Regions from separate parts of the Homo sapiens genome. Here all the other regions are reported to be linked to region 1. Evidence: microRNA targets listed by miRTarBase, many of them from high-throughput screens and not tested one by one. Region 1 holds a microRNA gene; each other region holds the end of a gene's coding sequence. Distances are between the middles of the regions.

Region 1 (3,159 bases):
TGTGAGTCCCTGAAATTCCTCTAAGAAAGGAGCCTCGACCAAGTCCTCATCCCAGGGCTTGTGCAGGCTTTGGGGTCCCTGGAGCAAAGCCCTGCGCCTCTTAAATTTCTGTCATTACTTTCTCAACGAGATCCACAACCCAGAAAACACGAGAGACTCAAAAATTACCAAACAGTCTCTGCCATGGGAGGGAAGGATGCTCAGGCAGGGCCACCAGCCACACCACCCGAGCTCCCTGCTGTACAAAGAAGGGGATGCCTCTGGCTTCTTACCCCGACCCTGTACTTCCCTGGCCTCAGGAACCTGCTGCCGTCCGAACCCAAGAACCTTCCTACCGACAGAGCAGTGAGCCGGCCCGGCACTGCCTTCCGCCAGCCTCCCAGCCTCCCACTCCAGTGCATAACCCGCCACCAGCAGCAGCCTGGGACTCACCACCAGGATCCCGCCAAACGCACGCATGTTCTGCACCAGGCCCAGGACGGTACTGGCCACCACGGCCATCAGCTGAGGACAGGAAGAGAGCACAGCCCTTACTCCTCCTGGCCCCACTGAGGGGACACCATCCCGGCCCACCACGCTGACCCTGACAGAAAGGCAAGATGGGGCAGGCCAATGACCACCAACCCACACACACACACCTGGACCCACAGCCACCCCCACACGCCTCTACACACCCACACAGCCTGTCAGGCCCCCACGTCCACCCATACACACCCTCGCACCCCAACACCTACATCTACCCACACGCATTCGCACACGCTTGCATCGCCACCCGCACGCACTCACTCACCCACTCCCGCATCCCAACACCTCCACCCCAGCCTCATTCAAGCACGGACTTCAAATTCCTGTGGGAGGCCCTTCTCTGCCTCCCAACCCACTGCAGGTGGGTCAGCTACTCTGTGGCCTGGAGACGCCAAAGAAATGCAGAGCTAGAGGTGGCAGGAGCACCTGCAGGAACTGAGTCTGAGAAGGGGCCTCTGAGAACCAGCAGGGAGGCCCCGGCTCCAAAGAGCCGCTCCTCCTCATCACAGCCTAGCCGGGAGAAAGGCCTTCACATCAGCCCCATCAACCCACCTGAGGAATCCAAACTAGACAACACAGCTGAACGCCACAGTGGAGACCAGTCAGCATGTACGTGTGCACACGTTGCGTGTCATCGTGAGCATGTATATACTCACGTGAGAGGTCCTGGGAAACTGCGACTTCAAGCAAAACGGCATGATTGCAGGGTCTGCTGTGCGCCATTTCCCTTAAAGTCACAGTTTCCAAGAACCTGTGGATAGCACTGAGGCCTTACTGTGGATGTGTGCACACACGATCATGCATCTTACACGGGCACAAGTTCACATGGATATCTGCATGCGATGTGTGCACACACGATCATGTGTCTTACACGGGCACGAGTTCACAAGGATATCTGCATGCGATGTGTGCACACACGATCATGCGTCTTACACGGGCACGAGTTCACAAGGATATCTGCATGCGATGTGTGCACACACGATCATGCATCTTACACGGGCACGAGTTCACGTGGATATCTGCACGCGATGTGTGCACACACGATCATGCGTCTTATCCGGGCACGAGTTCACATGGATATCTGCACGTGATGTGTGCACACACGATCATGCGTCTTACACGGGCACGAGTTCACATGGATATCTGCACGCGATGTGTGCACACACGATCATGCGTCTTACACGGGCACGAGTTCACATGGATATCTGCACGCGATGTGTGCACACACGATCATGCGTCTTACACGGGCACGAGTTCACATGGATATCTGCACGCGATGTGTGCACACACGATCATGCGTCTTACCCGGGCACGAGTTCACATGGATATCTGCATGCGATGTGTGCACACACGATCATGCGTCTTACCCGGGCACGAGTTCACATGGATATCTGCATGCGATGTGTGCACACACGATCATGCGTCTTACACGGACATGAGTTCACATGGATATTTGCATGTGATTATCTGTGCATACGGTGATGCGGGCGTGCGTATTAATGTACGTGTGTATGTGCATGATGATGTGTATTGTATCCAAACATGATTGTATATGTGTGACTGTGTATGATCATGTGTGCCTGTGATTGTGTGTGTATATGCATGTGCATGGTCACATGTGTGGTTGTGTGTGAGATCACGTGTGCTTGGCTGTATTGTATATATGTATGATTGTGCTTGTATGGCTGTAATTATGTGTGAACACGTGTGCGCGTGTGTGTGCGTATGAAGGTCCCAGCACAGCAGCCCCGTAGGAAGGCTCAGGACCCCTGAGCTGCCTTCAAGTGGGACATACTGTCAGGTGGGACAGGTGCACAGCTCAGAGGAAGGATGAACGGGGACAGAGGAGGGACCTGGACACTCAGAACATGGGTCTTAGGACATGATGCCAGGAGCAGCAAGGCCCAGACCCCCGACCTCTGCCTGCCTGCCCCTTTAAGGTGCCCATTGCTCCTAACCGGTGCATTAAGAGAAACCAGCCCTCAGAGATGGTCATGAGCCACCTGCGCCCGCATTAGAGGATCCTGGAAACAAGCTCCCTGGCCAGGGATACCACTGCCCCTCATTAATAGCACCCTGGGAGCCATGGCAAAGGCCTTTCTGGGAACCTCAGAGACCTGGGGGAGCACTGGTGTCCAGGGCTCCAGCCCCAAGGAGCTCCTGCCACTGGCCAAAGCATTGCACCCGCCACACCCTTGCCCGCCTTCCTCTCCCAACCCAGAAATGCAGGGCTGGGCTCTCCTGCTTCTAATGACCCTTCCCCAGCATCACAAGAGCACGGCAGAGAGCTGAGGGTGCAGCCAGGGAGCCCAGGGTGACGGGCACAGTCCTCGGGCCCTTCCTGCCCCAGGCTCACCCACCCTGGAGCAACGCAGCAGCATGACCCAGGAGGGTGGGGCGAGTGGGGGTGGGGCCGGCACACACCTTCATGCTGGGGATGATACGCAGGAAGCGGAACACGATGAGCATGTTCAGCATGCGGGTCATGTCCCACAGCGACAGCAGGCCCACCATCTCCGGCCTCCTGGGGAGAGACACGGGAGGCGGGTTGGGAGGAGCCCAGGAGCCCCACAGGGAGGAGACAAGGAAACGCGCGGGTTCCTGGACGGAGGCGCAGGGAGGGCAACAGGGCAT
Region 2 (3,159 bases), not on the chromosome of region 1:
GACATGGGCCCTAATCTCCTGGGGCTCCATAGTCCGAGGGGGAGACAAAGGCCCTACTTTCAGAGGTTCCCCAGTCCAAGAGGGGAGTCAGAAGCCCATCTGCAGGGACTCATTTGCAGGTGCCATCTCAGGGGTGGTTTACCCCAGACAGGCTTCTGAGCCTGTTGGAGAGTCTTAGAGGATGTTATGTCTCCAGGCCTACTCACTGCAGCACAGCAAGGAGGACCGGCTGGCGTATCTGAACCATCTCCCAGGAGGGGAGCTGATGATCCAGCTGTTCTTCGTGCTGTATGGCATCCTGGCCCTGGCCTTTCTGTCAGGCTACTACGTGACCCTCGCTGCCCAGATCCTGGCTGTACTGCTGCCCCCTGTCATGCTGCTCATTGATGGCAATGTTGCTTACTGGCACAACACGCGGCGTGTTGAGTTCTGGAACCAGATGAAGCTCCTTGGAGAGAGTGTGGGCATCTTCGGAACTGCTGTCATCCTGGCCACTGATGGCTGAGTTTTATGGCAAGAGGCTGAGATGGGCACAGGGAGCCACTGAGGGTCACCCTGCCTTCCTCCTTGCTGGCCCAGCTGCTGTTTATTTATGCTTTTTGGTCTGTTTGTTTGATCTTTTGCTTTTTTAAAATTGTTTTTTGCAGTTAAGAGGCAGCTCATTTGTCCAAATTTCTGGGCTCAGCGCTTGGGAGGGCAGGAGCCCTGGCACTAATGCTGTACAGGTTTTTTTCCTGTTAGGAGAGCTGAGGCCAGCTGCCCACTGAGTCTCCTGTCCCTGAGAAGGGAGTATGGCAGGGCTGGGATGCGGCTACTGAGAGTGGGAGAGTGGGAGACAGAGGAAGGAAGATGGAGATTGGAAGTGAGCAAATGTGAAAAATTCCTCTTTGAACCTGGCAGATGCAGCTAGGCTCTGCAGTGCTGTTTGGAGACTGTGAGAGGGAGTGCGTGTGTTGACACATGTGGATCAGGCCCAGGAAGGGCACAGGGGCTGAGCACTACAGAAGTCACATGGGTTCTCAGGGTATGCCAGGGGCAGAAACAGTACCGGCTCTCTGTCACTCACCTTGAGAGTAGAGCAGACCCTGTTCTGCTCTGGGCTGTGAAGGGGTGGAGCAGGCAGTGGCCAGCTTTGCCCTTCCTGCTGTCTCTGTTTCTAGCTCCATGGTTGGCCTGGTGGGGGTGGAGTTCCCTCCCAAACACCAGACCACACAGTCCTCCAAAAATAAACATTTTATATAGACATTTGGTTTTGCTTTTCTGTTCTCCCCAACAGGGAACTCTGCCATTGGCTGGGATTGATCTTGGGTTTCTTGAAACACTAGATCTGGTCAAGCCCCACCTTGGGCCTCCCGTGATCTTTCCCCTGTTCCAAGATTTCCCACAGTTCTTTGGCTCTCTCTCTTTCTTTTTTTTTTTAATTTTTCACTTCTTTATTTTTTAGAGACAAGGTCTCACTTTGTTGTCCAGGCTGGTTTCAGACTCCTTGGCTCAAGTGATTCTCCAGCCTCAGCCTCAGCCTCCCAAAGTGCTGGGACTACAGGCATAAGCCACTGTGCCCAGTGGCTCTCTTTTTCAAGAATCTCAAAATCCTCATTGTACTATATGCTTTCAATCCCTCACCTCAGTCCCTCTTGTTGTAGGTTGTCTTTTTCTCCCCATTTGGAGCTGGTTCTTATGAAGACATCTTTGGTGAGAGCAGCTAGAGGGAGAGAACTGTGAAGTGTCCACTGTGAAGTGGAATATTTTACACTTTATACATGAAGGAAATGGAGGCTCAGAGAGGATAAGCAGTTTCGGTCAAGCCACAGAGCAAATCCAGCCCACAGAGCTGGATTCCAGGTCAGGTCTGTCTAATGGTGAAGTCCAGATATGTACTCACTGTGACCCATCTCCTGAGGGGAGACAGAGGCTGCTCTATTCCAGCCCCTACTGTGCCATGATGGTCTCCCTGTTGACCTTCTCCCTTTTTTTTTGAGACGGAGTCTTGCTCTGTCACCTAGGCTGGAGTGCTGTGGCGTGATCTCTGCTCACTGCAAGCTCCGCTTCCCGGGTTCATGCCATTCTCCTGCCTCAGCCTCCCGAGTAGCTGGGACTACGGTTTTGTTTGTTTGTTTGTTTTTTGTTTTTTTTGAGACAGAGTCTCACTGTCACCCAGGCTGGAGTGCTGTGGTGTGATCTCGGCTCACTGCAACCTCTGCCTCCCGGGTTCAAGTGATTCTCCTGCCTCAGCCTCCTGAGTAGCTGGGATTACAGGTGCCCGCCACCATGCCTGGCTAATTTTTTTTTTTTTTGAGACGGAGTCTCGCTCTGTCGCCCAGGCTGGAGTGCAGTGGTGCGGTCTTGGCTCACTGCAAGCTCCGCCTCCCAGGTTCACGCCATTCTCCTGCCTCAGCCTCCTGAGTAGCTGGGACTACAGGCGCCCGCCACCACGCCCAGCTAATTTTTTGTATTTTTAGTAGAGATGGGGTTTCACTGTGTTAGCCAAGATGGTCTCGATCTCCTCACCTCGTGATCCACCCGCCTCGGCCTCCTAAAGTGCTGGGATTACAGGCGTGAGTCATCGCATCCGGCGACCTTCTCCCTTCTTGTCTATGTGTCTGCCAGAAAGTCACCCCAGCAGCAGCCGGTATGGTGCCTGCTACATTATGGAGCTTCAAAAAATGTCAAATGAAACCCCTGGGCTTTGGATTTCTGCCCATCGAGTCCTGTAGAGACTGGACACAACCACTAGTAGGGCCTAGGGGAAAACGTCCAAGTTTGAGCTTTTAAGCCAAAGCCATCTTTTAACTTCTCTGGGCTCTTGCAGGTAAACGGTCCGCCACTGATGCCTGGGTCTGGCTGTGAGCCCAGCCTAGAAAGGGAGCTGTGGGTGGAGGCACTCACAGGCAAGGGGAGCTGGGGCTGCTGTGGCCTGGTCTGTGGAAGGGAGGATGCTTCCTAATCTCTGGGAGGGAGATGGTGGCAGCATTCATCATAGAAGTCTTCTACTCCCTCCAGGAGTCCCCTGATTCCCCAGCCCTCAAGATCTTGCTCCCAGCCTGTAATCCTAGCATTTTGGGAGGCCAAGCAGGGAGGATTGCTTGAGCCCAGGAGTTTGAGAGCAGCCTTGGCAACATAGTGAGACCTCGTCTCTACCAAAAAAAAAAGATCCAGGTG
Region 3 (3,159 bases), 24 Mb from region 1:
AATAAGGAGTTTGGACTAGCAAATAGGATTCTTCCAGCTTTTTTGAATTAGTGATCATCCCCACCTAGTAGCATCTTGGCCTGACTGCAAAGCATTTCATAATCTACAGAGAAATCTAACTTTCCAAAAAGTGAAGAGATATCATGTGTTTAAAGATAATAAATCAAAACACAATACATGCTTGCCTGGTATATATTTAGCTGCAGAGCTATTCTGCAGAAAATCAGGGGATGATATCCCAAAGAAAGAGATATTTTATATAGGTCACAGCAAAGGGTGGGCACAATTTTCTTCAGTGGCTTCATGACTGCATTAGGATCTATTTATTCTTTCATTACTGTGTCAGTCAGGCATTCTCCCTCAAAGAGATGCTGTGTAAGCAGTAGGGACTCATCAGCATTAATCTCATTCTAATATTTCCTGGGGGCAGGAAATGACATGTTGGTTTTACTTTGATGGTTTTTATGTCATTGCATTACTTAAAGTGTAGCAGTCACTCTATTCTAGGCCATTAGTTTGTCATTTTTTTCCATGATTCTTGCAAATGTGCTTCTTACATAAGAAAAATACCAAAGACTTTGTTCTCGAAAGCAGCCTTAGTGAAATTCATTTATTTCAAGATCACAGTGTGGATAATACCTCCATGAGTAGGTCTGACCAAGAGACAGGAAGAGAAAGGCTGGAAAACTTGTGAAGTGTAGTGTATCCACTTACTTAGAAAGTTTGGGAATGAAAAAGGATTTTTTTTTTTGCATAAACATTCAGAAACACTGACTCATAAAAAAGAAGTGGATTAAACGCAATTGAAATAACTAAAAATATGTCTGAGTGAATAATGCACAGACTAGGGACAGTACAATTTACACACCAATGCCATATGTCATCAGAAACTGTGGACACAGATTTGCTCATTAAGCAGATAGTGCAAATATGCATATATTTACCATGGCCACTGCACAGGCGGCCGTAATCTGATTGAAGCAAAAAAGGAAAGTCCCTCAACCTGTCAACTTTCAGTTTTGAGGACTGGATTGTTATATTTCCAGTGGAATGATTCTCCTGTTAATTTTGGAAATCATGGCCAAAGCCCACAGATGAGAAGGGAATCCCAGGGTGTAATCAAACATTACACACTTTTAAAACAGAGGTAAGTTCTGGAAAATTATAACAAAATACTGTTTTTAAAAAGCACAGTTTTGGGCTGGGCACGGTGGCTCATGCCTGTAATCCCAGCACTTTGGGAGGCCACGGCAGGTGGATTACGAGGTCAGGAGTTTGAGACCAGCCTGGCCAACATGGTGAAACCCCATCTCTACTAAAAATACAAAAAATTAGCCAGGCGTGGTGGCACACACCTGTAACCCCAGCAACCTGGGAGGCTGAGGCAGGAGAATCGCTTGAACCCAGGAGGTGGAGATTGCAGTGAGCTGAGATCATGCCATTGCACTCTAGCCTGGGTGACAGAGCAAGACTCTGTCTTGAGAAAAAAAAAAAAAAGCACAATTTTGCTTTATTGGCAGTACCAAAATAAAGTTAACTGAACCAGAGTAAAATATGGCATTTGATGTTTCTCTAACACCATAGAGATCAGAGAAATTGAAAGGTATGCCATGCTCGCCGGCAGAATTTTCAACATGGTCCATTTCCCAAAACCTTCACATTAGCTTTCCTCAAGAGCAGCCTTACTGAGTGCAAGCACATATTTGTACATAGGCCCAGACACACACACACTATTATAATTTATACACAATAACTAGTCTACTTTCCTCTTTTCTTAACATAATTGTATTTATAATGGTGATGCTACCGATTTAGAATAACAGACACCTTTCCTCTGCATTATGAAGAATTGTGATTATCTAGGCCGCAAACTTTGAAGGTATCGTTTTTTCTTTTTTCCCCCCTGAATTTGTGAGTTTTGCTTAAACTTCTAAAAATATCTAATTGTAGAGAAGCTATATGAACAAAGCCAACTTCTGTAGCAATGTTAGATTTACCAACTGGAATATTTACCAGAAAACACAAAACCAACCAGATAATCACATTCTTTCTAATGTTCAAACAACTTTAACTTCCTCCCCCACCCACCAAATGGAACCCAAAAAGCCTCATGTTGCTCTTCATTGATACCTTTCTTGAAGATCATAAAACCCAACTATATTAGATTGGATGCTTAACACAAACAAACAGAAATAACTGAGCATACTAAACATGTTATTCAAGCCTAATTTTATAGCTGAAAATTGGGCAGCTTATCAAAAAAATAGAGTTGATTTAAAAGGCTTCAGCCCATTTTCTGGTTTGTTTAATAATATTTGTTTCTCTTCTCTTTCGCCTAAGAGACTAACTTTTCCAACAATCATTACTACTATTTTCATTTCATTGGCTCAAAATTACATGCAACAATGCCTCTTTGATTGTTGCCAGTTTTTAATACTGCAAGGACTGATGCTGTAACACTTTCCAGGGCACAATACTGCACAAAGCCATACAAGACTGGCTGTATAACTTAGTGGGTGAAATAATTTTTCCCTCTTTGCATTTTTAGCTGTGAACATAGGTACCTACATCAAGGATTACCAGTCACCTCTCAAAAACAATTTCTGAGCCTTTCATTTTCACCCAACTGGAATCAAGCTTGCTTGTTGGGACAGTATGACTTGTGAAGAAGTTTCTAGTGGAAAAATACAGTATTCCCTTCTCATTCCACAGACAATGCTCCACTGGGACAGAAGCCCAGCCAATCTGCTTCCACTTTTCTGTAACAAACAGGGTGAAGTACCCAAGATGTGATGTCTACACTTGAGTCTGATGCTGAGTCTCCACAAAGGGAATGTGAAGGCTGGCGAGGCTGAGCTCTCCCACGCTCTCGTAGTCACTCATGGCTACTTCGGAATCGTCAAAGCCGCAGTTGGCAGACACATCCGAGGATGAGGTGCCTCTGGAATTGTGCAAGGACAGAGACACGCTGTCTGCTGGGCCTGTGGGCTCTGTGCCCTGGTTCATGCTCACAGCAAAAGTACTAAATTCACAGCTGGCAGGCGGGCCCACCAAATCCGTTTCGTTGGGGAATGGGTGAGGAGGGAGATACTGGCTAGGATGAAACTGGGGCCTTCTCCTGCAGTCTGGGCTCAGTGTGCTGGCCAGGGAGACAGGCTG

What was found. The annotated mature microRNA hsa-miR-3164 reads UGUGACUUUAAGGGAAAUGGCG and lies in region 1 at 1,243-1,264, opposite strand. An mRNA with a match to its seed (bases 2 to 7 or 8) in the 3' UTR can be bound and repressed. Matches are read on the target gene's strand: a 7mer-m8 pairs with bases 2 to 8, a 7mer-A1 pairs with bases 2 to 7 and ends in A, and an 8mer does both.
Region 2: the mRNA of TMEM101 is a reported target of hsa-miR-3164. Seed matches in the 3' UTR shown: 8mer at 1,005-1,012.
Region 3: miRTarBase lists FAT3 as a target of hsa-miR-3164. The part of its 3' UTR that is shown has no 7-base or 8-base seed match.

Annotation. Positions count from the first base shown.
Region 1 is chr11:69,081,290-69,084,448 of GRCh38, reverse strand. MIR3164 (microRNA 3164) reads right to left here and starts at 1,273; the gene lies at 1,191-1,273. TPCN2 (two pore segment channel 2) reads right to left here. Exons shown (of 25, transcript NM_139075.4): 18 at 2,950-3,049; 19 at 433-504.
Region 2 is chr17:44,009,274-44,012,432 of GRCh38, reverse strand. TMEM101 (transmembrane protein 101) reads left to right here. Exons shown (of 4, transcript NM_032376.4): 4 at 197-1,245. The coding sequence ends at 505. Among named protein-coding and RNA genes, the nearest start is that of TMEM101, 4.1 kb to the left of the region's middle. RefSeq lists a silencer at 878-1,172.
Region 3 is chr11:92,890,751-92,893,909 of GRCh38, reverse strand. It overlaps FAT3 (FAT atypical cadherin 3), which reads right to left. Exons shown (of 28, transcript NM_001367949.2): 28 at 1-3,159. The coding sequence ends at 2,797. Among named protein-coding and RNA genes, the nearest start is that of LINC02746, 23 kb to the left of the region's middle.